Homo sapiens: one gene and its partners. The protein of the gene in region 2 purifies or fractionates together with the protein of the main gene of each other region. This does not show direct contact. Each region holds a gene or a part of one and is shown on either strand. Other genes may lie near its edges. The genes, in order: PKM, DIRAS2, BRAF, KRT9, HRNR and KRT2.

Evidence for each region.
Region 1: the proteins of DIRAS2 (region 2) and PKM purify together in Homo sapiens (affinity purification with mass spectrometry, with the first as the bait; one study listed by BioGRID). This does not show direct contact.
Region 3: the proteins of DIRAS2 (region 2) and BRAF purify together in Homo sapiens (affinity purification with western blotting; one study listed by BioGRID). This does not show direct contact.
Region 4: the proteins of DIRAS2 (region 2) and KRT9 purify together in Homo sapiens (affinity purification with mass spectrometry, with the first as the bait; one study listed by BioGRID). This does not show direct contact.
Region 5: the proteins of DIRAS2 (region 2) and HRNR purify together in Homo sapiens (affinity purification with mass spectrometry, with the first as the bait; one study listed by BioGRID). This does not show direct contact.
Region 6: the proteins of DIRAS2 (region 2) and KRT2 purify together in Homo sapiens (affinity purification with mass spectrometry, with the first as the bait; one study listed by BioGRID). This does not show direct contact.

What each region holds. Positions count from the first base shown.
Region 1 is NC_000015.10:72,209,944-72,215,132, reverse strand, and holds part of PKM (pyruvate kinase PKM), read left to right. Parts: intron 1-4,654; coding exon 4,655-4,786; intron 4,787-5,189. UniProt on the Homo sapiens protein: Catalyzes the final rate-limiting step of glycolysis by mediating the transfer of a phosphoryl group from phosphoenolpyruvate (PEP) to ADP, generating ATP.
Region 2 is NC_000009.12:90,614,444-90,619,632, forward strand, and holds part of DIRAS2 (GTP-binding protein Di-Ras2), read right to left. Parts: intron 1-5,189.
Region 3 is NC_000007.14:140,914,128-140,919,316, forward strand, and holds part of BRAF (serine/threonine-protein kinase B-raf), read right to left. Parts: intron 1-5,189. UniProt on the Homo sapiens protein: Protein kinase involved in the transduction of mitogenic signals from the cell membrane to the nucleus. Phosphorylates MAP2K1, and thereby activates the MAP kinase signal transduction pathway. Phosphorylates PFKFB2.
Region 4 is NC_000017.11:41,564,720-41,570,132, forward strand, and holds the end of KRT9 (keratin, type I cytoskeletal 9), read right to left. Parts: intron 5,297-5,413; coding exon 5,140-5,296; intron 4,869-5,139; coding exon 4,707-4,868; intron 3,915-4,706; coding exon 3,789-3,914; intron 3,667-3,788; coding exon 3,443-3,666; intron 3,032-3,442; coding exon 2,554-3,031; 3' UTR 2,514-2,553; intron 1,434-2,513; 3' UTR 1,117-1,433; downstream 1-1,116. UniProt on the Homo sapiens protein: May serve an important special function either in the mature palmar and plantar skin tissue or in the morphogenetic program of the formation of these tissues. Plays a role in keratin filament assembly.
Region 5 is NC_000001.11:152,210,589-152,214,895, reverse strand, and holds the end of HRNR (hornerin), read left to right. Parts: coding exon 1-1,820; 3' UTR 1,821-2,820; downstream 2,821-4,307. UniProt on the Homo sapiens protein: Component of the epidermal cornified cell envelopes.
Region 6 is NC_000012.12:52,648,563-52,654,337, reverse strand, and holds the start of KRT2 (keratin, type II cytoskeletal 2 epidermal), read left to right. Parts: upstream 1-2,126; 5' UTR 2,127-2,195; coding exon 2,196-2,780; intron 2,781-3,784; coding exon 3,785-3,999; intron 4,000-4,363; coding exon 4,364-4,424; intron 4,425-5,235; coding exon 5,236-5,331; intron 5,332-5,775.

The DNA of each region.
Region 1 (5,189 bases), on a different chromosome or scaffold from region 2:
GCCTCCCAGGTTCAAGCAATTCTCATACCTCAGCCTCCTGAGTAGCTGGGATTACAGACCTGTGCCACCACGCCCAGCTAATTTTTTTATATTTTTAGTAGAGACGGGGTTTCGCCATGTTGGCCAGGCTGGTCTTGAACTTGTGACCTCAGGTGATCCGACTGCCTCGGCCTCCTAAAGGCGTGAGCCACCACGCCCAGCCCTCTTTTAACAGCTTTGGCAACTAGTCTTCAGCCCTCACTTTTGGCAGTTCACATGGGCAAGATGCATTCTTGCTGAACATGTGGTTCCATATGCCATGTTTTCCAGATTTATTTATTTATTTATTTATTTATTTAGAGAGGGAGTCTCGCTCTGTCATCCAGGCTGGAGTGCAGTGGCACGATCTTGGCTCACTGCAACCTCTGCCTCCTGGGTTCAAGAGATTCTTCTGCCTCAGCCTCCTAAGTATCTGAGATTACAGGCACCTGCCACCACACCCGACTAATTTTTGTATTTTAGTAGAGACTTGGTTTCACCTTGTTGGCCAGGCTGATCTCGAATTCCTGACCTCAAGTGATCCATCCGCCTTGGCCTCCCAAATTGCTGGGATTACAGGCGTGAGCCACCACACCTGGCCTAGAAATAATGACTTTTAAACAACCTAAATGTAGAGCCTTCCACAGGACAGCATTGATGGATGCTTTACCACATAACATCCCAATAAAGCCACAGCTGAAGTGGAAGACTCAGTACACCTCCCAGAGATGCTCTAAGAGATTATGATATATGACATAGATTTGAATAATATACCTAATAATTGGTATGTTTATAATATATGGTTTTACATCCCCAAGACCAAAAATGCATGTTTGCATGAAACACTCATGGTTACAAAAATATATTAGGCCACCAAAAAAACCCCCACGTTTCATAAAGTAGAAATTATACAGACACATTCTCTGATAAAATTTTTTAGTGGAAATTAAGAACAAAGTCAAGAAAACTGAAGTGTGCTTACTTTAGAAAGCAAAGATCTCAAGGTAGATGAAATAAATATTTAACTCAGAACACTAGGGGAGGAAAACCCTAAAAAGGGTGAAGAAAATAATTTTGTAAGATTATAGCTCAATGAAATGAAAATAAATTTGACAGATTAAGCTAAGAGCTGATTCTTTGTGGGGAAAAAATAGTAAAATAGAAAGTTCTGAGAAGCCAGGTGAAGAATGCGAGGATGTGCAAATAAGAGTATGAATAGAAAAGAGAATATTTCCTACACATTGGAGATTTTAAAAGTCAAGAAAGACTTATAACTTAATTCCTATATAGAGAGATGACTCTGGCTATTTTCAAAGAAAAGATAAATATCCAAAAGATAGAAAATATGAATAGACCAGTGGCCATAAGAAGTTGAAAAAGTGGGCTGGGCGTGCGGTGGCTCACACCTGCAATCCCAGCACTTTGGGAGGCCAAGGCGGAGGGATCACTTGAGGTCAGGAGTTCGAGACCAGCCTGGCCAACATGGTGAAACCCTGTCTCTACTAAAAATACAAAAATTGGCTGGGCATGGTGGCACATGCCTGCAGTCCCAGCTACTCGGGAGCCTGAGGCAGGAGAATCGCTTGAACCTGAGAGGTGGAGGCTACAGTGAGCCAAGATCGCGCCACTGCACTCCAGCCAAAAAGTTGAAAAAGTGATTAAGATCTGGTTCACCTCAGAACACTTAAGTCCAAATGATTTTAGTGGCTGAATTGTCTCCCCTTCAAAGTTCAGTTACATTGTTAAACTGTTCCAGAGCCTAGAGAAATATAGAAATCTTCCCACTGTGTTCTTTGAAACCAATATACGCTGATACTGAGATCAAACAAGGACAGTACCAAAACCAGGCAGGTACTAACAGTTAGTGTGCTAGACCAGTCTCACTTAGATGCAGAAAACAAATAAAATTTAATAATCCAAATCCAGTAGTGATTGAAAGGAATGTCTTGATCCATGACCAAGTAGATTTTATTCTAGGAGAACAAAATTCTACATCGGGATTAAGTAGAGTTAAGGTTGACATTTTTTTTTTTTTCTTCTGAGACGGAGTCTCGCTCTGTCACCCAGGCTGGAATGCAGTGGCACGATCTCGGCTCACTGCAACCTCTGCCTTCCGGGTTCACACCATTCTCTTGCCTCAGCCTCCCGAGTAGCTGGGACTACAGGCGCCTGCTACCACGCCCGGCTAATTTTGTTTTTGTACTTTTAGTAGAGACGGGGTTTCACCATGTTAGCCAGGATGGTCTCGATCTCCTGACCTTGTGATCCCCCCTCCTCGGCCTCCCAAAGTGCTGGGATTACAGGCGTGAGCCACTGCGCCTGGCCTGAGTTAAGGTTGACTTTTAAACAACCTAAATATAGCTAAATATAGAGCCTTCCGCAGGACAGCATTGATGTGTGGAACTCTTATCCACGTGATAACATCCCAACAAAGCCACAGCTGTAGTGGAACTCAGTACACCTGAGTCTTATCATTATAAGATGATAATAGGTAACATTTATTAGATAATTACCATGTACTTTGTCCTAATACTTCATGTATTCTTTTACTCCTCACGTCAACTCTGAAGGAAAGGCACCACCTATCCCCTTAAAAGAAAACAACTATTACTATTCTTTTTTTTTTTTTTCTTTTAGAGACGGAATCTCACTCTGTCTGTCGCCCAGGCTGGAGTGCAGTGGCACGATCTCGGCTCACTGCAACTTCTGCCTCCTAGGTTCAAGTGGTTCTCTTGCCTCAGCCTCCTGAATAGCTGGGACTACAGGTGCACGCCACCACGCCCAGCTAATTTTTGTATTTTAAGTTGAGACGAGGTTTCACCATGTTGGCCTGGTTGTTGTCAATCTCTTGATCTCATGATCCACCCGCCTTGGCCTTCCAAAGTGTTTAGATGACAGGTGTGAGCCACCGCGCCCAGCCTCTATTCTATTCTATTTTGTTCTATTTCTATTACAAGCCAGTAAGCAAGAAAATATCATAATTTATAAGGAACCCTATAAAAAACAGACAAGCCAAGGGTCTGTCATTAGGAAGTATGCCTGAATAAGAAGCTGAAGATTTTTAGACACAGGTTTCAGGCAACACTGTCTTTAGAGGCTAGGCTCTGGCTCCAGCTCCCTCCAGCCTCCTGTGAATAACAGGCAGGCTTACTTGCAGGTGCCACTTTCCTGGACAGTGGTGGTTAAAGGACAAGGCCCAGAAAGTGCTGAATTAGGTGCCCTTGTTACCGCTAATGTCTTATTGATGACACTATCTTAGAGCTCTTTTGACATCTTGGCTCTGCGTCTTTTTTTTTTTTTTTTCTTGAGATAGGGTGTTGCTTTGTTATCCAGGCCGGAGTGCAGTGGTGTGATCATGGCTCACTGTAGCCTTGACCTCCTAGACATAACCCACCTCAGCCTCACAAGTAGCTGGGACCCCAGGCACGCACCATCATGCACAGTTAATTTTTGTGTTTTTTGTAGAGACGAGGTTTCGCCATGTTGCCCAGGCTCATCTCAAACTCCTGGCCCAAACTGTCCTCCCACCTTAGCCTCCCAAAGTGTTTGGTTTATAGGCATGAGCCACTGTGCTTAGCCTGAGTCCCTCTTTTAAACAAACAAAATGGTAAATGGAAAGGAGGAAAGGCTTAAGAAAAAAGATTGAAGCCAGGATTTGTTGTAAGCAAGGAGTAATAAAGGGCAGTTCATTTAGAGAAAGGCATATGACCACCTTTCCCCCTCCAATCAGAATCTAGAAAGTGATTGAGGCCGGGCGCAGTGGCTCACGCCTGTAATCCCAGCACTTTGGGAGGCCGAGGTGGGCGGATCACGAGATCAGGAGATCGAGACCATCCTGGCTAACATGGTGAAACCCCGTCTCTACTAAAAATCGAAGAAGTTAGCCAGGCGTGGTGGTGGGCGCCTGCAGTCCCAGCTACTCGGGAGGCTGAGAGGCAGGAGAATGGCGTGAACCTGGGAGGTGGAGCTTGCAGTGAGCCTAGATAGTGCCACTGCACTCCAGCCTGGGCGACAGAGCAAGACTCTGTCTCAAAAAAAAAAAAAACAAAGCGATTGAGAAAATCAGGTCTGTGTGACCTTAGCAATGAGTTATTTAGCTTGGGCCACTGTTAGCTTAAGTCAATAACTTCAAGTTTGCGTTGTAGTTGGAATCAATAGAGGAAAAGCTCTCAGCATTACCACATATATCAGAATGTGACATTGATTGCCAGACCAGCCTTATCCAAACACAAGTCCTAGGCTTTTTGCCCTGTTTATGAGCTTTATATGCTGAGGGTATTTGATGAGTCTTAGGGAAAAAAGAACAGCCCTGGGGACACAGCTGCTTTTATGATGAGACATGTTTGCACCCATACCTTAATGGGTTTTGGTGGCAATATTCTGAAATTTGCCACCTACATTTCAAAGATTTGCCCTTTGGGTGAATTAGTGCTGTAGTAGAAGTGGGTGGAGGCTGAGGAGGTTGGATTAAGCAGGTAGAGGATTTCTCAGTGCATGGATCGTGCTGAGGATGGAGATAGAGCTCTAAGACATCCACGGGCCTTTCCTGAGTGATCAGCTTTGGCTCCTGGGCAGGGGAATTGGAGCTGGATTCTAGTGTGGGAGCACGCTTGTCATCTTCCTTCTTTTCCCCCAGTACCATGCGGAGACCATCAAGAATGTGCGCACAGCCACGGAAAGCTTTGCTTCTGACCCCATCCTCTACCGGCCCGTTGCTGTGGCTCTAGACACTAAAGGACCTGAGATCCGAACTGGGCTCATCAAGGGCGTGAGTATTCTGCGGAGAGCGAGGGGAAGGCTCAGTAGGCAATATGCCCCAGAGACATGTCCTCCAAAGCGCTGGGTTGCCATGTTTCTTCCCAGTACTATGAAGGACTGCAGAGGAGTTGAGGTCTACAAATGAGGATTTATTCATCACTGTAAACAATGTTGATTTGATCTACTTTGCTAGGAAATGGTACCACAAAGGAACCTTTTTTTTTTACCCTAAAAACCTAAACTTTAGGCTTTCTAACTTGGAGAACCATCTCTTTGTATCTTTTTCCCCATCATTAAGTAGCATAACTGAAACATATTCTTTTCTTGGATTATTTCCGTGAAGTATACAGAGTTAGAGAATAAGAGCAAAAAACTGTATTACTTTTAGCAGTGACTTGAGCATTGTTCCCGGG
Region 2 (5,189 bases):
CTGCAGGAGTTGGTGCCATTAGCTCTGTTGTACAATGATGAAACTGGAAACAAGGAAGAGATCGGGAATGGAATGTCTCTGATGTTACACAGCAATAAGAGGGAAGGCTAGGATACAACCAAAGCATTGTGGATGTCAATGCCCATCCCATAAGCTGTCTGTAGACAGAGCTGGTCCCAGTGACTTGGGCGTTACTCAGGCCATAGTATAGATTGTCTCCATTAAGTATGAAGAGTTAACTAATAAGTGTGGATAGTCATTTCATTCATCAAAATTAAGATGATTATATAAGCTTTATTTTTAAGAAACATAAGGAATCAGGTATTACCAGGATAGTAGCATAAACTACTTTTTAAGGGTCATTAAAAATGAGGAGAATGCAGCAACTCTTCATCACAAACTTCACCCCTAGTTTAATATTTATTTTTATTCAGGGATGTGTAGATGTGCCTTCTTAATTTACAATCTATCAAAATTTTTTCATTCTGTACCTTCTTCGGTAAGGAAGGACATATAACACCAAACAAAATAGAGAATTACACAATTTGGATACATTTTTAAAACTGAAGTTGATAAGTAACATGGTAATGTGAAGCATGGAATTCATTCTTCTCAGCAAGCAGGCATTGTGCTGACTTTTCACCTTTCTAGTTTTAGGGCAACTTTGGAAAAACAATAAAAAGCTTTACTGAAGCAAATAAGTTTTAGAGTCCAGTAAAAATATTAAACATAACTACCAATGGAAGGAAATGCATTTGTGCAGTGAATATGTTCTCCTGACAGACAGAACATCAGGTCAAAGCCCTGGACTGAGGTATTCCACCTTCTCATTTTGCCTCATGCGTCTGCCTACAAATCTGCTCGATTCAATACTCAGCTGTTCTTGCATGCACTTTGGAATCCCAAACCCTCCAAGAAGCTAAGGAAACATCAATGCTAACAGAAAATATAAAAGACTGTTAGGAAGTTCATTAACACCAAAAGATGGCAGAAGAGTCTGCTTAGGAGTTTGGTGAAGTTTATTAAATGCTTATGAGATAATTATGATTAATTCAAGGGTGAAGCATTGTGATAAATTTTTCCACAATTTTTTTAAAAAAACTCAATCGTGTCTTAGTTTGTTTTCTGTCACTATAACAGAATACCTCAGATGAAATAATTTTAAAAGCAATCTACTTCTTACAGTTCTGGAGGATGGTAAGTCCAATATGAAGAAGCTGGATCTGGTGAGAGCCTTTTGTTGCCTCATAACATACTGGAGGGCATGGCATGATAAGACAGAGCAAGCATGTCAGCTAGGGTCTCTCTCCTTGTCTTATAAAGCCACTGATGCCATGACAGGCATTGCCCAGCCTCCTCATGACCTCATCTATTCCTAAAAGCCCCACTTCCAAATACCATGAACATACACATTTGAGGATTACATTTCTAACATATGCACTTTTAGGGAACACATTTAAACCATAGAAAATGGACAATGGAATCTAATCTTAAGCTTCTTTCTACATCCTCAGAATGAAGCTCTCTTTTTGCTTAGAAGGGAGTTTCCTCACTCGTTTTGCCTTGTATTATGGTTATGTAGCTCCAGACTAGAGCATAAGCATCTAGCTGGAAGAGAACATATCTTAACAAGTTCTGCATCCCAATGTATCTCAAAGATCTCTTGGTTCACAGCACATACACTCTTTATGAGTTTGCTGAATATGTGGTCAGCTATGTTAAGGTGTCTCCATTATTAAACTGGCAACGAACACATAGGAAGTAAATGCTAAACATAAAATAAAGTATTCATGGCTACAATTATTCATTTACCCAGAGAAATATCCACTGAGCTTCCACTAAACCAGGCTGTGGACAAGCGGCCAGAAAACAACTGTGCAGAGGACAGACTTAAGGAAGGATCTCTATTCTCATGAAACTCAGAATCAAGTAAAGCAGACATCAATCCAAAAGATAACTTCATAAATATTTAATAAATTATATCATAGCAAGTGCTGCAAAAGAGAGGTCTGAAGGAATTTCATGAAATTTGAGATATCAGGAAGAATTTCACTAAGGAGGTGGCATGGAAGCATGAATCTGAAAGATGAACAGGAGTCAGAAAGTTGAAGGGGTATAAAGTTCAATGTGCATTTATGAGATAGGCCTGGGCCAATAACTCCATAGTGATCTTCAACTCACTAACAAAAACCCAGACTGTAGAGAATCACTTGAACCTGGGAGGTGGAGGTGGCAGTGAGCTGAGATCATGCCACCGCACTCCAGCCTGGGTGACAGAGCAAGACTCCATCACAAAAAAAAAAAAAAAAAAAAAATTGTAAACTATTTTCTTCCATGTCAGAACCATTCATTTATTTCACAAGCATTTATAAAATGTCTTCTAGATACTGTGCAAACTCAGTGCTTACCCAACAGCACTCACAGCATTAGAGGGGGGACAAGCATAGGAAAGTATACATTACGCCCCACTTCGCAGATGCTGTGATCTAGTTATCAACAAAGGCAGGATAAGAACCTAGTGGGGAATCTAGCTCTGCCTGGAGCCCTCAGGAAGCATTTCACAGAGGGCTGGAACTTGCCAGATGGTGAAGTGATGAAAGGCGTGTTAGTCAGAAGAAAGAACTTCATAGGAAGGAATAAATGGAGGAAATAGAGCTAATGCTCATGCCATGGTAGACAGCTTGTGTAAACTGGCATCCAGGAGTGAATTTGGGGTAGCAAGTGAGTGGTGGCACTCACCATCAATCAAGATAAAAGGCAGAAGAGAGAAGCAGCTTTAGAGAAATGACAGTAAACAACAAGGAGAAAGGAGCTGTGATTGGGTCAGGTTTATGGGACAAATGGGGGAGATATCTGGTAGGTGATTGGGATTTAGTGTGAAAGTTCAGCAGAGAGGACTCATCTAGTGATAAATATCTGGATACCATTCATACACAAACAGCACTATAATAAACAAAAATTCTCCAGGGAGAGAGCATGTAGAATGAAAGGAGAATACCACATGCCCAATCTGTTATATGCTATTGAGAGAACTTGGCAAGTTACTTAAACTTTCTGCATTTGAGTTGCTTTAGCTAGGAAATGGATATAATAATGCCAAGTTGTTTATGAGACTAATGTGGGGAGTAACACAATGCAATCAAGCACTTGAACAGCTCTCAGCACATAGTTTTTTGGCTACATTCAAGAAGGACCATGCAGATAAGGGGTTCATAAAGGAGCAGTATGATGGACAAGGAGAAAAATTCACAAGAGGGCAACTAGCTATTAAACTCATTCAATAAGATTTCAGAATACAACATTCATATAAAGAACCAACTGTATTTCTATACACTTGCAATGAACAATCTGAAAATGAAATTTAAGAAAATAACTCAATTTATAATAGCATCAAAAAGAGTAAGATACTTAGGAATAAATTTAACAAAAGATGCAAAACATATCTGGAAATTACAAACATGGTTGAAAGAAATTGAATACACGAATAAATGGAAAAGCACCCCATGTCATGTATCAGAGGACTTTTACTGCTAAGATAGCAGTATTTCCAGGAATCACCTACAGATTCAATGCAATTCTTAAAAGCATCCCACTAGCGACTCTGCAGAAACTGACAAACCGATCCCAAAATTTATGTAAAAATTCAAGAGACCCAGAATAGTCAAAACAATGTTGAAAAATTAAAAGTGAAAAAGCTGGCAGACCCATACTTCCTGATTTCAAACTCACGACAAGGATATAATACATCAAGAAATTGTGGTACTAACACAGGATACACAGATACATGAACAGAATAGAATTCAGAGTCCAGAAATAAACCCTCATATTTACAGTCAATTGTTTTTTGACAAGGGTGTCAATAAAATTCAATTCAAAAGGCAGAAGGAATAGTCTTTTCAACAAATGACGCTGAAACTGGTAAAAGAATAAGGGGAGCACCTCTCCCTCACACCATACACAAAACTGACTCAAAATAGATCAAATACCTAAATATAAGAGCTAAAACTATAAAACTCTTAGAAGAAAACATAGGTATAAACCTTGATAACCTTGGAGTAAACAGTGTTTTCTTAGATGTGACACCAAAAGTATGAGCAACAAGATTAAAACTAGGTAAATGTGACTTCATCAAAACTAAAGGACACAATCAAGAAAGAAGTAACCCACAGGATAAGTGAGTATTGTTATAAATCATATATCTGATAAGGGACTAGTTCTGGTATATACAAAGAACTTCTACAATTCAACAACAACAAAACAACTCAATTAGAAATGGGCAAAAGACTTAAAAAGACATTTCTCAAAAGAAGATATATGAATTTATTGACTATATTTAATAGTCAATAAGAAGATATACAAATAGCCAATAATAAGTCAATAACATGAAAAGATACTCAACATAATAGTCACCAGGGAAGTGCAAATCAAAACTATAACAAGCCTGTAATCCCATCACTTGGGAGGCCGAGGCAGGCAGATCACAAGATCAAGAGATCAAGACCATCCTAGCCAACATGATGAAATCTTGTCTCTAAAAATACAAAAATTAGCTGGGCATGGTGGCGCATGCTTATAGTCCCAGCTACTCAGGAGGCTGAGGCAGGAGAATTGCTTGAACCTGGGGGGCAGAGGTTGCAGTGAGCCAAGATCTCACCACTGCACTCCAGCCTAGCAACAGAGTGAGACTCTGACTCATCTCAAAAAACAAAACAAAGGCTGGGGGCGGTGGCTCATGCCAGTAATCCCAGCATATTGGGAGATCGAAGTGGGTGGATCACCTGAGGTCAGGAGTTCAAGACCAGCCTGGCCAACATGGTGAAACCCCGTCTCTACTGAAAATACAAAAAAAATTAGCCAGGTATGGTGGCAGGTGCCTGTAATCCCAGTTACTTGGGAGGCTGAGGCAGGAGAATCACTTGAACCCAGGAGGCAGAGGTTGCAGTGTGCCAAGATCACGTCATTTCACTACAGCCTGGGTGACAAGAGCGAAACTCCGTCTCAAAAACAAAACAAAACAAAACAAACTATAAAGTACCGCTTCATACTCACTTGGATGGTTATAATCAACAACAACAAAAAACAAACCCAGAAAATAACAAATGTTGACAAGGCTGTAGGAGCATTTGAACCTTTGTGCATTGTGCATTGCTGGCAAAAAATGTAAAATGATATTGCTGTTTTGGAAAAAA
Region 3 (5,189 bases), on a different chromosome or scaffold from region 2:
TATCTTTTGTCTTAAAAATCAACAGAAAACACTACTATAATTTTGTGAAGGCTTTTACATATTCATCATTTCACTTTATTTTCATAGCACTCCTATGATCTACTTAACACATATGGCCTACTAGAAGTTCAGTGCATACCATAAGGAGGGGGAGGAGGATCAAGAGATGCCAGTGAAAGGCAAGCATTCAACTGAGTTCTCATGTATAATGAAACTTATTTGAGATTGTGTGACTTACTGTTAGTATGAGAAGGCATGTGCAGGAAGAATATGAGTGGAATATCATCAGTGTTAGAGGCAATCCTGCAAAAACTAAAGGGAGATGAACATTTTCTGTGGCTCTAGAATAGGAATATAAAGACCACTCTGAATCATAATCTCTTCCCTATTTGATGTTCTCTGACACTATTCCCATGGAAGTATATATTAATGTGTGTAAAACAAAAAAGTTCTGAGTTAATTAGGAGTAATTATCAATAGTACTTTATCTTTTTATGGTAAAAAAAAGTTATAAAGGCAATAACTGCTTGCTAGTCACAGAAAAGATGGGATATTTTTATGATGGGAATTAAGTCACCTCCATAAAACATTACCAGAAATTACGCTAACAAGAGCTCTATAAAAATAATCAGCCAGGCACGGTGGCTCATGCCTGTAATCCCAGCACTTTGGGAGGCTGAGGCGGACGGATCATGAGGTCAGGAGATCGAGACCATCCTAGCTAACATGGTGAAATCCCATCTCTACCAAAAATACAAAAAAATTAGCCGGGCATGGTGGCATGCGCCTGTAGTGCCAGCTACTCTGGAGGCTGAGGCAGGAGAATCACTTGAACCCGGGGGGGGGGGGGGGCGGAGGTTGCAATGAGCCGAGATCACACCACTGCACTCCAGCATGGATGATAGAGCGAGACTCCGTCTCCAAAAAAAAAAAAAAAAAAAAACCATACCTACTTAAGACTTAATTACAATTTTATGGCTGACACCAATAATCCCCTTTAATATTAAAAATACATCTATAAGCCAAAATAGAAATTTATTTTGCAAAATAAATGGTACAAGGTAAAAAATACAGTTTAAAAATATCAAGTCAATTGAGAAACAACCCCAAGCAGTACATTAAACTGTTTAAAATATGCCAAAATAAGTGACTAATTCAAAGTATCCTAACATTTTATTTCAATTAAGCAGTTCTAAAACTATAAAGTAAAAATTTTCTGGTGTTATTAACTTAAAGGTTACATATTTAGTGCAAGAAAAAATATAAAACAAAAGTATTCCCCAACTTAAATATAATTAAAGTATCTTTTTTTTTTTTTTTGACACGGAGTTTCCCTCACTCTTGTTGCCCAGGCTGGAGTGCAATGGCGCAATATCGGCTCACTGCAACCTCCGCCTCCCAGGTTCAAGCAATTCTCCTGCCTCAGCCTCCCAAGTAGCTGGGATTACAGACATGCGCCACCATGCCCGGCTAATTTTTTGCATTTTTAGTAGAGACGGAGTGTCTCCATGTTGGTCAGGTTGGTCTCGAACTCCTGACCTCAGGTGATCCACCCATCCTGGCCTCCCAAAGTGCTGGGATTACAGGCATGAGCCACCGTGACCAGCCTAATTAAAGTATCTTTTAAAGATATCCACACTTCTTTACTTTTTAAAAACAGATTAATTTTGGAACAATAGTTAAAAATAGTCTGCCAAGATATTGTATTACTCTCTCCCTGGAAGTGTAGTTTCAAAATCGGCAAGGTGATGCTGGGTGCGGTGGCTCATGCCTGTAATCCCAGCACTCTGGGAAGGACTGCTTGAGCCCAGGATTTCGAGACTAGCCTGAGCAACACAGCATCTCTACCAAAACAAACAAACAAACAAACAAAAAAAACCCAAGGATTTTTTTTAAAAACTCTGCAAGGTGACCCAACAAAACTGGAACGATACTCCTTGCAACATGGTCAAAACTTAGTCAGTTTCTACCTTCGCAATTGTCACCTGACCCTCTACTAGTCAGGTATTCCACACTTCCTCTCTAGAAACATGTGTTTCCTGTTATTTTGTTTTTAAATTATTAAATGAAAATCATGATGAGAAACATCATTTTACACTGTAGGGATAATTCCCTGGGCTAACCAGTAAAAAGCTATCAGTGCAGTTTAAAACAAAGTAAAGGGGCCCTATAGGCCCCACTGAAAAAGGTAGAAATATGACCAACTACTACCATATGCCTTTCCTTAGAAGAAACATAATGATTTAATGATGCCCCTAAGATTCATAAAGATACTAACTCTGAAATATCACAGAACATGACATAGGTTTCAAATGGAAGAACTCTTCTAATGAAGATGGAGAATAACACATTGTAAACTAGTATCTTTCACAACCTAATTGACACTTTCGGTGACTTTTTTTGGTGAATAAACATCTTAACATATTCATTTTCCCCTATACACATTTTGATTACACCTCATAATGCAACACGGTAAAAAGGACGTGATTGACTTTTCTGTGCAACCTACTAAAATATGTCCTTTCTTATAAGGAAATTAATTTTGGTTGCAACTTTTACCTGTCACTTTTCATGAACCTCACCACCACATAATTCAAGACAGAGATATATTAACTATATACTGAAGTCTTAAGTATTTGGGGGTAGAAGACACCTTTGAAAACCTGAATAAAATTATGAGTCTTCTCCTTCCAAAAGTATGGTAACAAGAAATTAAAAAGTCAAAGTTCTAAAAATCTTCTCAACTGGACCTACCTGATTTTAAATTTAACTATAAAGCTATCATAACTAAGGTAGTGGGGTATTAGCCTAAGAAAACACACACAGATCAATAAAACAGTAGAATCCAAAACTCACAAACATAAGCAATTGATTTCAATAAAAGTGCCAAGGTGATTCAAAAGAAATTTGATAAATGTGAAACAACTGGACATCCATATGTAAAATAATGAATGAACCTTAACCACTGCTTCACAATTGCTGGAGTGCAATGACGCGATCTCGGCTCACTACAACCTCCCTCTCCCGGGTTCAAGTGTTTCTCCTGCCTCAGCCTCCCAGGTAGCTGGGATTGCAGGTGCCCACCACCATGCTCGGCTAATTTTTGTATTTTTAGTAGAGAGGGGGTTTCACCATGTTGGCCAGGCCAGTCTCAAACTCCTGACCTCAGGTGATCTGCCCTCCTCAGCCTCCCAAAGTGCTGAAATTACAGGTGTGAGCCACCATGCCCGGCCCCACTGATATGACTTTTATATGACTCCATTTATATGACTTTCTGGAAAGGGCACAGAGATCAGACCAGTGTTTGCCAGGGGCTGAGGGTAGAAGATGAAACTGAGTGCAAAGAGGAACTAGGAGCTGGGCTTGGTGCATGCCTGTAGTCCTAGCTACTTGGGAGGCTGAGGCTGGAAGATTGCTTGAGCCCAGAGTTCAAGTCCAGCCTGGGCAATACAGTGAAACTCCACCTCTCTCTCCCTCTCAAATAAATCAATCTAGTTTTTACAAAAGCAATTATGAACTTTCTATAGACCTCTAACCTACATCTTACTTTGAGAACCTCAAATATAACATATATAGTCTCCCTTAGACCAGGAGTCAGAACAGTTCAGCCCATGAACTGGCCCACTATCTGCTTTTGTATAGCTCACAAGCTAAGAATACTTTTTACATGTTTAAGTGGTAGAAAAAAAATCAAAAGAAGATTTTCATGACACATGAAAATGATATGAAATTCAAATTTCAGTGTCCTGAAAATGACTACTGGAACAGAGTCAAACTCATTTGTTTAAATATTGTCTATTAGCTACTTCTGAGCTACTACAGTATTGTTGAGGAATTGTGAGAGGAACTGTATGTCCCACAATGCCTAAAATATTTGCCATCTGACCCTTAAGATTGCTGACCTCTGCCTTAAGACACAAGTTGTTGAAATTTTCTACACAGATGATACCTGAGAAGATTTATGCCAGCACAAACCTCTCTTCCATACATAGTAGCTCTAAAATTTTTACAGCCATAAAACCCTTTTTTCAAGGAAACTAACATGTAAAGCAGATAAATGAAGAACTTCAATAGTTATGGTATAGGGCAGCACTCCCCAACCTTTTTGGGACCAGTGACCAATTTCATGGAAGACAATTTTTCCATGGACAGGGGTAGAGGGGGTTTCAGGATGAAATTGTTCCACCTCAGATCATCAGGCATTAGATTCTCACAAGAAGCACACAATCTAGATCCCTCACATGCACAGTTTCTGATAGGGTTCACGCTCCTGCCGCTGATCTGACAGGAGGTGGAGCTTTGGCGGTAATGCTCACTTGCCTGCCACTCACCTCCTGCGGTGTAGTCAGGTTCCTAACAGGTCACGGACTGGTAGATACGAGGCTGTGGCCCAGGGGTTGGGGGCCCCTGGTATAGAGGCACTAAACAGAGCCCTGGGGTAACCTCTGAAGAAGGTCCTTGAAACCCCAAAACAGTGTTTTTCAAACTGCCTGTTGCAGCCAATTTGGCTGTCAATTTCATAAGGTGATTTTGTGACCGGCAGAAAAAAAGAATAGAATGTTACAGAAAATCAGATCACCTCATATCCAGTAAGGTTTTATTCACTAATTCTTTCACCAAATATTTTAGTACCTATGTGCCAGGTACTATTATAGATGAAGATTTTAAAACTACAAAACAGACAAAAACAGTTTCACATATGCATTAGTGCAATTTGGAATTTTTATTCTGGCCAGGTGTGGTGGCTCACGCCTGTAATCCCAGCACTTTGGGAGGCTGAGGCGGGCAGATCACGAGGTCAGGAGATTGAGACCATCCTGGCCAACACGGTGAAACCCCGTCTCTACTAAAAATACAAAAAATTAGCTGGGCGTGGTGGCAGGCGCCTGTAGTCCCAGCTACTGGGGAGGCTGAGGCAGGAGAAAGGCAGAAAGGCGTGAACCCGGGAGGCAGAGCTTGCAGTGAGCTGAGATCGCGCCACTGCACTCCAGTCTGCGAGACAGAGCGAGACTCCGTCTCAAAAAAAAAAAAAAAAAAAATTATTATTTACAATGATAGAATGTTTTCGAAAAATTCTCCTAGAGCTCTGGCGTACTTTGAAAACCACCGTCCCACAGTACATTTGTCCCAAACGTGCTGTCAGGAACTGCAGCTACATTACAAGAATGAAAACGACGCTTTATCCGATG
Region 4 (5,413 bases), on a different chromosome or scaffold from region 2:
CATTTTAAGCCTCTATACTTTGGGGTAGCTTAATAAGCAGCTATAGTGTCTGGTACATAGGCTGAGGGGGGCTATTTGTCCCTAGTAATAAAAAGGATTTTTGACTATCAGAATCTTTAGAGAATATTGTTGGCTGATGTCTTGTGGAATGTCCCTTACTTTGCCTTGAAGGACTTTATATTTTTTATATTTTTTACTTGAAATCTTGCAAGCAAAGACCACATCATTTTTGTCTTGTTTTCCTCCATAGCTAACACACAACGTGACAATAGACTATGGTAGATTGTTTGCAAAAAATTGCTTCAGTTATTGCCCTCCCTATATCCATGCCCATTGCCATGTGACTTTGCAGTTCCTCCCCTCAAGAGAAGTCTATTTCCCCTGCTCTTGAATCTGGGCTAGGTTGCGACTTGCTTGGCCAATATAATACAGCCAAAGTGACTTCTCTGAACCTAAACCTCAAGATGCCTTGCATGTTTCTGCTCATGACCTTGGAACACATGCACAAGCTAGTTGGCTGGAGGATGGGAGTCACAGACCCCATTCATCCTCATCACCCCAGCCAGCATCCAGCCAACTACCAGAGGAAGAGCCACCTGGCTGACTTGCAGCGAACCATAGATGCATAAAGGGAACCAGAGCTTCCCAGACTAAACTGCAAAACTGTTAAGCTAAATGAATGGTTGTTATTTTCAGCCACTAAATGTGGGTTCCTTTGTTACAAGCAAAAGTTAACTAATAGAAAAGTGAACCCACACTCTTTATAACAGATTGATTATCCCTTTACTCTGTCACCAAGGATGGAATGCAATGATGCAATCATAGCTCACTGAAGCCTCCAACTCCTGGGCCCAAGCAATCCTCCCACCTCAGTCTCTTGAGTAGCTGGGACCACAGGTGCCTGCAACCATGCCTGTCTAATTTTTGTTTTGTTTTGTTTTTAGTTTTTTGTAAAGACAGGTCTCACTATGTTGCTCAAGCTAGTCTTGAACTCCTGGCCTCAAGTGATCCTCCTGTCTCAGCCTCCCAAAGTGCTAGGATTACAAACATGAGCTACTGTGTCCCACCCACCCTATCCCTTCTTAATCCCAAAGAACAAATGGGTCAAAGTCTGAGTTTGATTTGCAGTAGGGAAGCTTTATTATAGTCAAGATCGTGCAGGGTGTGAGAGCACCCCAGGCCAGAGAGAGGAAAGAGGTCTGTCTCCCCAACCCTGAAGGCATCAAAGCCAAGCAGGGTTGGAAGCCAATGGAAAGCCAGAGGCACATATGCCAAGTCAGTTCAGTCCCAAACGGGCACAGGGGCTTGTTGCCAGCTATTCCTGATGTCAGGATCCAATAAGCAGGCTTCATCGGGAGTCTGCCCATCTGGGGATGCTCAGCTGGGGCTGGGCAGGAGAAGTTTACAGAGGCTCTAGTATCGCGAAAGGAAGCCTGTGGAGAGATGGAAGGGAGATGAGGGGGAGAAGGGAGGACTGTAAGCAGGAGCAGAGAGGTTGGGACTTGGGGGAAGATGGGGAAACTCGAAGCAAGGACACTAGAGCTCAAAGAGCTGGACAATCCTGAGGTAGAAGGACCCTGGGGTCTCCCAATCTACTGGTCCCCATCTAATTCCTGAATCTCTGTTGCAGCAAACCTGACAGATGCACCCCCAAGTCTGAGGATGGGGGGCTTATGAGGCAGCCCCCTCCATTCAACAGATTTGTTAGTCAATTTTTTGTATATTGAGGCAAAAGATGGCCCCAGCCTCACTCCTAGATGTATATCCATGGACCTGCAGTGCCACTGGACTCACAAAACCACATTAGACACCCTGCAGGGCAGCTCCCAAGCACCTCAAGTCTTCTCTGAGCTAAACATTCCCAGTTATATTACCCAGGCTTTTCCTATAATTTCATATTACATTTTTATTTTATAAAATTCAATGTGTACATGGGAAAATGTTCCCTGATCTAGAGACCAACTCACCTGTGTGAGCCTTTCTTACATTTAGATTATGTTCATCCTTTTGGCAGTTGCATCATGTAATACTTGTGCAAGCCAACCACTGACTAAAATCCCTGAGTCTCTTTTCCACCTGAACTGTTGCTGATCCAGGTCCCCCATCCTCATGAAGGTTGAAAGTACTGGCTGTGAAGCCCCACAGAGCTGAACCCTTCATTTGTGATTGTATGACTTTGAGCAAATTATTTTCTCTGAACCTCATTTTCCTTAAAATGGGGATTATAATAAAACCTACCTCATAGCGTGTGTCATGATAATGCACAATTTTCAACCCATCTCCTACACTACTGAGACTCAGCCATGTGTAGATTTGGTCCTAGCCTCATCCTAGGCTCTGTCAAAAATAATGATCAATTCAGAACCAAGGGTAGGTCTCTGACACCTCACTAGAGATTTCCCTAACATCTAGCTCTATTCAGAATCTGTGTTCCCCAGAGATTCAAAAATACTCAAAAAAAAAAAAAGGTGAGACCTTGACTCTCCACCCCACAACCTAGGATTGTCCCTTACCTTTTGTCTCATCTTGGTCACCAGATTTTGAGGAAGAAGACTAGGAATGGGATGATTTTCCGCTTCCTCCTCCGTAGCCGCCACCACTTCCACTCGCTTCTTCACCGCCTCCGTAGCTGCCTCCACTTTCACCTCCAAAACCACTTCCTCCACCATGGCTGCCTCCACTTCCTCCCCTGGACCCACTTCCTCCACCATAGCCACCCCCACTTCCTCCTCCAGAGCCACTTCCTCCTCCATAGTTGCCCCCACTTCCTCCACTATGACCACCTCCACTTCCTCCGCTATGGCCACCTCCACTTCCTCCACCATAGCCACCTCCACTACCTCCTCCAGAACCACTTCCTCCACCGTAGCTGCCTCCACTTCCTCCCCTGGACCCACTTCCTCCACCATAGCCACCTCCACTTCCTCCTCCACCATAGCTGCCTCCACTTCCTCCCCTGGATCCTCTTCCATAACTGCCTCCACTTCCTCCTCGACCTCCAAGGCCAATTTTTCCAGCTCCGGAGGATTCACTAAGAAAGAAAGAAAACAAGAGAGTTAAAATGAGCGGCCCCCATACACATATATGAGGATGGACCTGGACAGAGTCAGGACCCAAACATGAATCTTTCTGTTTTCCTTCCTGGGAGGCAGAGGACAGAGTCTGGGCGGGCACCACAGCTGGGAGAGGAGAGCCTCCAGCTGAGACTGTGGAGCCCTCCCCTCCCTGGAGCAGGGAGGCAGCCCGTTCTCTCAGTGTCACCATCCTCCTTTCCCAAAGCCCAAATGCACTGAGGTCCCCCCGGCCCCCAGGATGAAGAAGTCCTCAACCCATAAGACCCTGTGTATAAGAACTTCCCCCAGCTGCCTCTATCCAGAGGGACAGAAGTAGTATCAGAGGCCTAGGGACCCCCAGGGGTTCCACCAAATCCTGGGGGACCTACAAGTCTTCCTGGCCTCCCTCAAGGAGGTTGTGGTAGGTCTCGATTTCCTTCTCCAGCCGCATCTTAATGCTGAGCAGAAGGCTGTATTCCTGATTCTGGCACTCGATCTCTTGCCGGACGTCAGTGATCTGGGCCTCCAAGTTACTGATCTGCTCCTGGATCATCTGCAGCTGGCCACAGTAGCGGTTCTTCGTGTCTTCCAAGCTCTTCTCCAGAGCTGCTTTCTAAGGGTTAGGAGAAGGCTTTAAGAGGGATGCTACATCATAACTCCTCTTCTTCCCACTCCTGGGCTGCAAAGACTTCCTGTGCCCCACCTTGGCAAAGGGTCTATAGCAGAACTACCAACCTTGCTGAGCTGAGACTGCAGCTCAATCTCCAACTCCTGGACACCGTGCCGGAGCTGGGTCACCTCCTTGGCACTGGACTGCACCTCCTGACCACTACTGGATACCTCATGCTCGATCTGGGTTATCTGCAAAACCAAAGGCTCAGTAAGCATCAGGCTGTGCCAGGAGCTTCAGTGAGTGAGATTCTGCCCCATTCACCAGGATCTTCACCTCCAGGGCCAAGGCTGATCTGAAGCCAATGACAAGTCATTCTGAGTTCTGGGTACCCTCCAGCCATGGAGGGTTGTCCAGTCCTCTCAACATGACATTCCCTCTCAACAAAGTTGCAAGACCCTTCACGCTTTGTCTCACAACCATCTTTCTAATCTAACCTTATTCCAAACTTCCCCCACCTTTCAAACATACACACACACACACACACACACACACACACACACACACACACACAGCACAGACCATGCCTTCATGTATGTGCCAGACTCTGGCTGGGCACTGGAGACTCAAGGACGAAGGGAACCACCAAGGAGCTCAGTACAGTATGGGAGACACACTGTATCCCTCTGCTATAGTCTTACATTACATAGCATTAGATTAAATTGTTCACATTCTGCTTTTGTTCACACACATCTAATAAACTGTGAGCTTCTCAAGGGCAGCAGTCTTGTTTGGCTCATATCAGACATCAATACCTCTGAGACATCAATACTTTACATATAACATGGCACTGAGAAGCTACTTTGTAATGATGTTTGTATGCAGTGAATGAAGATGGATGAATGACTTCCATTGGAAGATGGATAAATGACAGCTGCACTGAGAGATGCAGAGATAGGAGGATGAAGGAATGGGAGGTGGGAGGGATGGAGATAGGAATAGATGGAGGGGAGGAGGATGAATGGGCAGCCCACTCTGCTCACCTGAGTCTCATATTGATTCTCGATGTCCTTTCTGTTCTTAGCAATGAGCTGCTCATACTCCTGACGCATGTCATTGAGGGTCTTGGTGAGATCTTTGCCAGGAGCAACGTTTATCTCCACATTGACATCTCCACTGTTCTGCCCAGTCAGCTGACTCATCTCCTGCCAGGGAAGAAGGGGAGATGAGGTCACGGATAAAGTCCTCTGCACCACCTTTCAGAATTCTCCCTCTGGTCCCCCCAGGGTACAAAAAGGGGACACAGTTGTGAAGCCAAAGCCCAACCACTACCATAGGTGATGCCAAGGAGAAGTTGAAAGTGTCCTCAAGAGCAAAGGAGAGGGTGTCTCCCAGGTAATGTTCCAAAGCTCCCCTGCTGTCTCTGCATTTCTGCTCCTCCCTCTTCCCGGTAAGCCATAAGCCCCAGCAACCTACCTCCTTATGATTCTTCTTGAGGGCCATCAGCTCCTCCTGCAGAGTCTCATACTGCATCTCCAGGTCAGACTTCTCCATGGTCAGATTGTCCAGCACCTGCCGCAGGCCATTGATGTCAGCATCCACTCCTTGCCGCAGGTTTTGCTCCATCTCAAACCTGCAGACCAGCCAGGGTTAGAAAACAATCAAGAGGGAACCAGGCCCTACCAGGACCTCCAGAGCACTGAGGTTCAGGGGTAAGGGCTGATGACAGGAGAGGAGAAGAGGAGCAGGA
Region 5 (4,307 bases), on a different chromosome or scaffold from region 2:
GGCACTTCTGTAGCCAAGGACAGCATGGTTCTACATCAGGACAGTCATCAACCTTTGACCAGGAGGGATCTAGCACAGGTCAGTCTTCCAGCCACGGTCAGCATGGCTCTGGCTCAAGTCAGTCTTCTAGCTATGGCCAACAGGGCTCTGGATCTGGCCAGTCTCCTAGTCGCGGCCGACATGGGTCCGGTTCCGGGCACTCTTCCAGCTACGGCCAACATGGGTCTGGCTCCGGTTGGTCTTCCAGCAGTGGCCGACATGGGTCTGGCTCAGGTCAGTCTTCTGGATTTGGTCACCACGAGTCTAGCTCATGGCAGTCCTCTGGTTACACTCAGCATGGATCTGGCTCAGGTCACTCCTCCAGCTACGAACAACACGGCTCTAGGTCAGGACAGTCATCTAGGGGTGAACGACACGGATCTAGCTCAGGTTCATCTTCCAGCTATGGTCAGCATGGGTCTGGCTCCCGTCAGTCTTTGGGCCACGGCCAACATGGGTCTGGATCTGGCCAGTCTCCTAGCCCTAGCCGTGGCCGACATGGGTCTGGTTCTGGGCAGTCTTCCAGCTACAGCCCATATGGGTCTGGCTCAGGGTGGTCTTCCAGCCGTGGCCCATATGAGTCTGGCTCCGGTCACTCTTCTGGCTTAGGTCACCGAGAGTCTCGCTCAGGACAGTCCTCTGGCTACGGTCAACATGGATCTAGCTCAGGTCATTCCTCTACCCATGGGCAACATGGTTCTACATCAGGACAGTCATCGAGCTGTGGCCAACATGGAGCTAGCTCAGGTCAGTCTTCCAGCCACGGTCAGCATGGCTCTGGCTCAAGTCAGTCTTCTGGCTATGGCCGACAGGGCTCTGGATCTGGCCAGTCTCCAGGCCACGGCCAGCGTGGGTCTGGGTCAAGGCAGTCTCCCAGCTACGGCCGACATGGGTCTGGCTCCGGTCGGTCTTCCAGCAGTGGCCAACATGGGTCTGGCTTAGGCGAGTCTTCTGGCTTTGGTCACCACGAGTCTAGCTCAGGGCAGTCCTCTAGTTACAGTCAGCATGGGTCTGGCTCAGGTCACTCCTCTGGCTACGGACAACACGGCTCTAGATCAGGACAGTCATCTAGGGGTGAACGACACGGATCTAGCTCAGGTTCGTCTTCCCACTATGGTCAGCATGGGTCTGGCTCCCGTCAGTCTTCGGGCCACGGCCGACAAGGGTCTGGATCTGGCCAGTCCCCTAGCCGCGGCCGACATGGGTCCGGTTTGGGGCACTCCTCCAGCCACGGCCAACATGGGTCTGGCTCAGGTCGTTCTTCCAGCCGTGGCCCATATGAGTCTCGCTTGGGTCACTCTTCTGTCTTTGGTCAACATGAGTCTGGCTCAGGACATTCCTCTGCTTACAGTCAGCATGGTAGTGGCTCAGGGCACTTCTGTAGCCAAGGACAGCATGGTTCTACATCAGGACAGTCATCAACCTTTGACCAGGAGGGATCTAGCACAGGCCAGTCTTCCAGCTATGGCCACCGTGGCTCTGGCTCCAGTCAGTCTTCTGGCTATGGCCGACATGGGGCTGGATCTGGCCAGTCTCTTAGCCACGGCCGACACGGGTCTGGTTCAGGGCAGTCTTCCAGCTACGGCCAACATGGGTCTGGCTCAGGACAGTCCTCTGGTTATAGTCAGCATGGAAGTGGCTCAGGGCAAGATGGGTATTCTTATTGCAAAGGAGGAAGTAACCATGATGGGGGAAGTTCTGGCTCATATTTTCTCAGTTTTCCTAGTAGCACTTCACCCTATGAATATGTCCAAGAGCAGAGGTGCTACTTTTATCAGTGAATAATAAACATAAATGCAATTTACTCAAGTAGCAATTTAAGAAATAGGAAAGTCATCTATGAATTCATCATGAAAGACAAGCAATCCATCATGAAATTCGTTCTAAAAGTGAATCAATGCATTTCTGTCTCTTTCTTTAGAGCCTAAAACTGTAGCATATATCTTGTTATGGGGTTCCTTCCAAAGACTGTTAGGCATTTGTGCTACTTTGTTAGAAAATACTGAGTGGAATAACTTGTTAGAATGAGGGTTAAACTTTGAGGAATAATGAAAAGCTTTTAAAGAGCTTTGGGTTTAGTTGGAGTTGTCTTTTTGAGAGCTCATCATTCATTTATAGATGGTGCCAAAGCTAACCTTACATTTCTTAGAAGCAAAATATTACAAATGCATTACCAGTCCTAGATACAAAGCTTTGTTTTACAGCAATTAGTGTACCCTAATTTTTAGTGTGCCCCAAGTTTGGTGTGTCCCAATTTTTGGTATTGTGGCAGAAGGTGAAGGCTCTGAAAGCAAAGATGCAGCAGCGGTAGTGTCTTTACTTATCAAAACCATCAAGTCCTTTTTCTTGGGTATATATTTAATCAGTAAGTTAATTAGTGGCATAAAAAAGTAGCATCAGGGTCTTTTCCCAAGCCAGTGAGCAAGAGCATTATTTCATAAAGAATAGGGATTTATCATTTCAGGAAAAAAAAAAACATTCAAATGTGGGCTTTAGCTTGTTTTCAGCAGAAAGATCTTGCTCCCTATTTCTAAGAGGCTGCTCAATATTGGGAAATATATTGAGGAGTTATTCCATGGAAATACAATGCTTTCCACCTACTACTGTAGTTCAATAACGTTTCCACCTGAAAAAATATCATCCATGCCCAGATGAAAAGGAAGAGTATCTGTCACTGCTACATAGTTCCTTAATTTGACTGTAACACATTTGTTTCAAGTCTTTGGATTCAAACAACCGGATTGTATTAAAATTGACAATAAATAAATGTTGATTAAATACTAAGACTTTTCTCATCTGTGCTTCATTTCACTTCTTACATACAGATGGTCATCCTAGAAACCAAACCAAACAGCGATTTCCCAATATTCTATTTTTCACAATGAAGAATAGATAAAGCATTCTTAAAACTCAATAAGACAAACTACTTCATTTTAAAATGATCAAAATTCCATCACACTGGTATTGGCAATGATTTTTTTGATATGACACCAAAATCACACACAATAATGTGGAGCTGTCAGCTCCATACATTTTATTGTCCCTGAAGCCCTTAGAGGGAGACAACATATGGAGGTAGAAGGCGATATTTGTCTTGGTTTAACAAAAACTTTTTAGTGTTAGTTTTAATTTTTAACAAAAAAAGTTTTTTAAAAAAATTTAAAACAGAAAAAAGCCTACAGAATAATGATGTAAAGAAAAAAATATTTGTGTTCAGCTATACAATGTGTTCGTGCTTTAAGCTAGGTGTTAATTAAGAGAGTCAAAAAGTTTAAAAATGTAAAAGTCTATAAACCTAAAAATTTACAGTAAGCTAAAGTTAATTTTTACTGGAGGAAGAAATTCTTTTATAAATTTAGTGTAATTCAAGTGTATAGTGTTTACACACTCTACAGTAGTATACAGTAATGTCCTAGGCCTTCCCATTCACTCACCACTCACTGACTGACACCTACAGCAACTTCTAGTCCTACATGCTCTATTCATGGTAAGTGCCCTATACAAGTGTACCTTTTTTATCTTTTATGCCATATTTTTACTGTACCTTCTTTATGTTTAGATACATTTAGATGCACACTTACCATTGTGTTAGTTGCCTACAGTACTCAGTACAGTAACATGCTGTATAGGTTTGTAGCCTAGGAGCAATAATCTATACCATATAGCCTAGTTGTTTATTGGCTATACCATCTATATTTGTGTAAGTACACTCTCTGATGTTTGCCTAAGGGTGCATTTTTCACAACATATCCCCCATTGTTAAGCAACACGATTGTGTACTTTACTATAGGGCCTAGCAATTCCACTCCCAAGCGAAATGACAACGTATGTCTACATTGAAGATTTTTACATGAATGTTTATAGCAGCTTTAATAATAGCCCCAAACTTGAAACAATCCAAATGTCCACGAACAGATGACTGGATAAACAAATTGTGGTATGGCTATACAATGGAATTCTATTTAGCAAGGAAAAAAAGAATAAACTACTGATACATGTAACACAGATGAATCTCAAAAACACGTTGATCAAAAGAAGCCATCCACAAAAGAGTACATATTTATGATTCCATCTATATGAAACTTACTAAAACAAACCTAATCTATAAAAATAGAAAGTAGATCAGTGGTTGACTAGGGCTGGGAGTAGAACTTGTGAACTGTCTGGAAGAGTCACAAAGGAACACTCTAGGGTGATGGAATAAATCTATATGTAGATTATAATGGTAGTTACATATATATATACTTTTGTCAAAACTTACATAATCG
Region 6 (5,775 bases), on a different chromosome or scaffold from region 2:
TTAAAGAATGCAAAGCATATTATCTAGGAAAGCACATTGAGATTATGTAAAAGTTGAAAATTTAAAAATATAGAAATAAAATGTTACATAATATTCAAATTGCATTAATTCTAGTCTCCACATTTCAAAAGAGTAGGAGGACTCTTTCAACTTGACTTTCAAAAATTGGTGAATGGGTCTAGAAGGAGAAGATGTTCAGTGGAGAGAGTGGGGAGGGAGACCAGGGTGTGAGGGCAGAATTAAAATGCAGTAAAACATGCAGATTGGGTGCCTAGCACAAATCTGGCTCAATTTCCTTCATAGAGGCATTAAGACCCCCCTGAAGCTGCCATAGTGTGAGCACAGTCATGGTGGAGTAAGGGACGACTAGGGCATTGCTCAGATATCTGTAGATAATGACACATTTTGCTTTGGATTGAGACTGTCTCCAAAGCTGTTAGCTTCATGATTTGTTTGCATGATTATAATTATGCAAACCAGATTGGAAAAAATAATTGAGGAGACATGTAGCTTTGTTTCCTTCAGCATTCTTTTACTGCAAATTAAATACCTTGAATAGTAGTTAAGACAGGATTGGAAACTTGGCGGGGAAGATGCAGAAGGGTGAATAGCATTTATTGAGTTTCTGCTATGAACTAGGAACTGTGTTTAGCACATGTGTGTATTGTTCTGTTTTCACAGTAGCCATATTCTTATTATTCTTGTTCACTTTTTATAGATGAGGAAACTGAGGCTTGAAGAGGATTATGGATTATCTGAGGTCATTTAACTAAGATACAAGAAAATTGGGATTTGACCTCAAACTTATGTTTTTTACATTATTTTGTGATAACTTGGTACTAGGATCTGAACCACCTGGTTCTGTAATTTATGATGCCTGTGGAGAGTGCATGTTCATAGTAGCCAGAAGACAGTAACATGGCAAGGGGGAAAGGAAAAGGAATTATCTTTGTCTCACCCCAAACAATAATGATACTGACATTTTATTGTGCACGGTGGTTTTCAAAACACTTCATACGAATTTCCCATTTTATAGCTGGGACCACAGAGCCTCAGGGTTTCATTCAAGGCCTCACAGCCAATAAATAGCAAAACTGGGACTCAAACCCAGAATTTCTGACTAAATTCAGTTTTATTACTCCAAGAACCTCTCCCACATAGTTGGCCACATGGACAGAGGAAGTGGTTGAGTTTAAGTGTGAGTGCTCTGTGCAGGCTGGATGGTCTTCTTATCCTCAAGCATCTGTGGATGTCATTGAAGAGCCTGACTTCCTAATCACTTCCCAGGATCACCAGGCAATACGTGATTACTGACTGACTGAATCAATATACACTTGGATCTTGGTTTGCAAACTTTCACTTGGTGTCCCGCATCACACAGGTCCAGAAACAGCGAAACTTTTCTCATACCTCTCAACCTCTGGGTGTTCATGTAGACAAGGGACAGTTGATGGTTATACAAACCATCATGGTTATAAAAAATCTCTATTCGGTGCCTAGTTATTGTGTATTTTTGGTGTGGCATGGGAAGAAAAGAGCCAAGATATTTTGAAAATCGACACCTCTTTTGCAGTATCCGAGGCCAATTACTTTCTGTAAGAGGAGGTCGATTTCCAATTAGCATTTAAGGTCATTTAAGACCTTTGCAGTCTCCCCTGCACTAGTTGGGGCTCTTTCTGGGAAAGAGGGAAACTACAAGAGAACTACAAGGCTGGCATTGAGGGGCTCTTGCAGTCTCTAAACCCACCATCCCTTTCATTGTTGAACTGGGGTGGTGAGCCTGCACAAGCATGGGTGGTAGCTGACTTCCCTTGGGCAGGTCCAGAACAGGGAGCAGCATTCTGCAGAAGGTCCTTTTCCAGATTGAGAAACCCAAACCCTGATCTCCTCTTTTGATGATTTTACAAAAATCAAATTGCATGACAGATGCCCAGATAAACAGAAGTTTGCAATCAAAGCAAGTTCTGGGATGGAGCTGATTAGTAGATTTTTAATGGCTATTAGCTTGATAATCACGCACCAGGAATAGCTCCCAGGCAGACCAAACCCACGTATAAGTGGATCCACACCCATGTACACAACACCTAGTTGGCAGGTATATAAGGGGACCCTGAAAGCCTCCCAGCAGCACAGTTGAGTCTCCAGCCTTGACTCTTCTCAAGAGCCTGTGACTTTCCTCCCTGGACAAAGGCATCATGAGTTGTCAGATCTCTTGCAAATCTCGAGGAAGAGGAGGAGGTGGAGGAGGATTCCGGGGCTTCAGCAGCGGCTCAGCTGTGGTGTCTGGTGGAAGCCGGAGATCAACTTCCAGCTTCTCCTGCTTGAGCCGCCATGGTGGTGGTGGCGGGGGCTTCGGTGGAGGCGGCTTTGGCAGTCGGAGTCTTGTTGGCCTTGGAGGGACCAAGAGCATCTCCATTAGTGTGGCTGGAGGAGGTGGTGGCTTTGGCGCCGCTGGTGGATTTGGTGGCAGAGGAGGTGGTTTTGGAGGCGGCAGCAGCTTTGGAGGTGGCAGCGGCTTCAGTGGTGGTGGTTTCGGTGGAGGCGGCTTTGGTGGAGGCCGCTTTGGAGGTTTTGGGGGCCCTGGTGGTGTTGGAGGTTTAGGGGGTCCTGGTGGCTTTGGGCCTGGAGGATACCCTGGTGGCATCCACGAAGTCTCTGTCAACCAGAGCCTCCTGCAGCCTCTCAACGTGAAAGTTGACCCAGAGATCCAGAATGTGAAGGCCCAAGAGCGTGAGCAGATCAAAACTCTCAACAACAAATTTGCCTCCTTCATTGACAAGGTGACTCTGGAGAAGACGGCTCCCACTGATGCTCAGGCCACTTCACTTCCAGAGCCAACCAAAAAGAAAATGGCACAGATTTGTATTTCTTAGGAGCCAGTGGTGTACCGCAGTAGCCTGGGTCATTTGCGGTTTCCAGATGGAAAAGACGCCAGCTTTGTGGGTTACATTTCCCATAACAGCCTGCACTTAGGAAGCATTTGTCCCTTTGACCTTATTGTTACAGTCCATATAAATAATATTTATGGAAAATTCTGAAAACCATAAAAAATGGATATAGGCAAGTATTGAACTGATCCTTGGGACAGGCCACTGGAGCAGCAGGTTTTGGAAGCCATCGTCTTCTGAGATAGTGTTTCCTTCCTTAGCAGTGATTACTAAACTCTGGGAAGCTGAACCTGAAATATCTGCTTGGGAATGCAGGAAATTCCTGCCTTCAAGAGAAGCGTTCTCAGTTTTGTGATCCATAAAGTCTTTATTGGTGTCACTTCGGAGTGTTACTGGCTTTTCTCCTATTTCAAGGCAGACGAACCTGTCTTGGTTTATCTGCCTTGAAATAGGCAGGGATTTACAAGGCTCTTAAAAATCAGGCTGAGGAGCCCTGCCCTCTGGGACTCTCATACTCAGCACCCTTGCGAGCAGTGCCAGCAGATGGCTGCTTTCGGTTTTCCCCAGAATTTATGGGATCTTGGCTGGAAATTCAACCAGGATGCGGGGAGGGAAATGGTCTAGAGTATTGGGAGCAGCTGCAAACAAACCAGTGAGCAGTGAAGCAGCAAAGAGTCTCCTCTGCGTGGAGAGAGCCGGATGTAGCATTAGGAGTCTGTGGGACTTTCCAGGGGCGAAAGCAGGGAGCTCAGAAGCTCTGCCAGTCATGACTCGGCATCCAGCCTCAGACACTTCTCGAGGTCCTGAAGCAGCACCTGAGCTGCCCCTGGCCAGCGTGGCTTGCTTGGTGTGAAGGATGATCTAGAACTCATGTGCTCTCCTTCTGGTCATGGCAGGTGCGGTTCTTGGAGCAGCAGAACCAGGTGTTACAGACCAAATGGGAGCTGCTACAACAAATGAATGTTGGCACCCGCCCCATCAACCTGGAGCCCATCTTCCAGGGGTATATCGACAGCCTCAAGAGATATCTGGATGGGCTCACTGCAGAAAGAACATCACAGAATTCAGAGCTGAATAACATGCAGGATCTTGTGGAGGATTATAAGAAGAAGTAGGTGGCAGAGTGAAACGCTGAGTGGAGATAAACATTGCACTGAGCCATTTGATCACTCCCTGGAAAGCCATTCATCTCCCAGTTGCATTTGTGGTGGTAATGGGGAGAGGCATATGTATCTTTGTTGATTATTTGTGAGGAAGACAGTGAGACTTTAGAGATCATTTTTGTCTTTTGTATGTTTGAGAGTTAGTTTATAAAAATATATCTTTAGTTTGGAAATCTTAGTTTCAATTTAGATATTTAAAAAGTGTGTAATATTCCCAGAGAATGGGGCATTTGGGGTGAATCCAGTATAAAAGGAAAAGAAAAAAAATGAAGGGGAACTAATCTAACTGCTGTAACATCTGTGTCCCAATAGGTATGAGGATGAAATCAATAAGCGCACAGCTGCTGAGAATGATTTTGTGACGCTTAAAAAGGTGAGCGAGAGAATGTCTTGGCTGGGGGTGGGGATAGGAGTGCTTCACAGCCCCATTGTGTCTAAGCAGCCAGTTTGGAAATCAACTGTGAGTGCAAAAGCAGCAGCCAGAGAAAGGAGTGAGACCCATGGCACATTCTCTTGCAAACAAAATTGTCTCTGTAGGTCAAGCTTCTGGATACAGTTTTCAAAGCTGTTCTGCATTTTTGGTAGAGTGCTTCCCAGTAGTAACCCACTTAAAGCCTCTACTGAATCATGATAAATGCAAACACAAAAATCTCTTTGTATTCTCCTTCTAAAGAGCTGAGGAAGGAATGGGACTTCCCTTAGAATGCCTGCTTAAAGTTGCTGTTGGTTGTGCTGACAAAGGTTTGAGGTTGTAGGCCAAAAGCAAGGGTTCTCCTGCTGGGTCCTGCAGGGCCTTTGGTGTATATTCTGGGGAAATTTCGGAGAGGTGAGATGGACAGACGGGATGAGAGAGCTGAGGACTGTGGAAACCCACAAAGAACATCGTATCCTGTTGTAGAAACACACAGTGTCTCAAGCAGGAGAGAGGGGCTGGTTGGCAAAGCTTGGTCATCTCGAGGCTCTGATGGTCCTGAGGGCTGTGAGCCATGGACGTAGGCATGAAGTCCCTGGCAGAGGTGTATGGTAAACTGCACGACAAAAGAAGTCCCATGGGGACAGGGATCAGGTTGGGGAGCCTGGGATTTTAGAGAGGAGCCAGCAGGGACTGAGTAGAGGGGAGTGGCAGAGAGAGGAAGAGGCCTGTACAGGGAACCATACACCAGAGGCCTCAACCTTTCTTGCAGGACGTGGACAATGCCTACATGATAAAGGTGGAGTTGCAGTCCAAGGTGGACCTGCTGAACCAGGAAATTGAGTTTCTGAAAGTTCTCTATGATGCGGTAAGGAGGCTGCTCCGGGACAGTCCCTTACTTCCCACCCTTCTCACCAAATGAAAGTCCTTTCTGCTTGGTGAAAAAGTGGCAGAAGTGGGGTTTATGGACCAGCTGACTTCAATCTGCCATCATTCCAGGCCACTGGGGGGGCTTTCATAGCATAGGTCTTGTGGGTGAGGAATTTTCTCCTCCGATGTTATGGGAATAAGGTTCAGGAAACACCAGGACAGCTTCCCCTCCCTCCATTCCCCAGATGTCCATTTCCCCTGGGGAAGAGACAAGCCCTGTGCCCATTCCTGTGCCTACTGTACTTCAGAGGTCAAAATGCATTTGTCTCCTATCCCCCTCCCCAACCCAAGGGTGCACAGATGATTTCTGAAACAGGAAGTCCATTTAAGGTATTTGCCATGGACAAGCTTCTGTCTGGGGGCACTTACCATAACTGGCTTA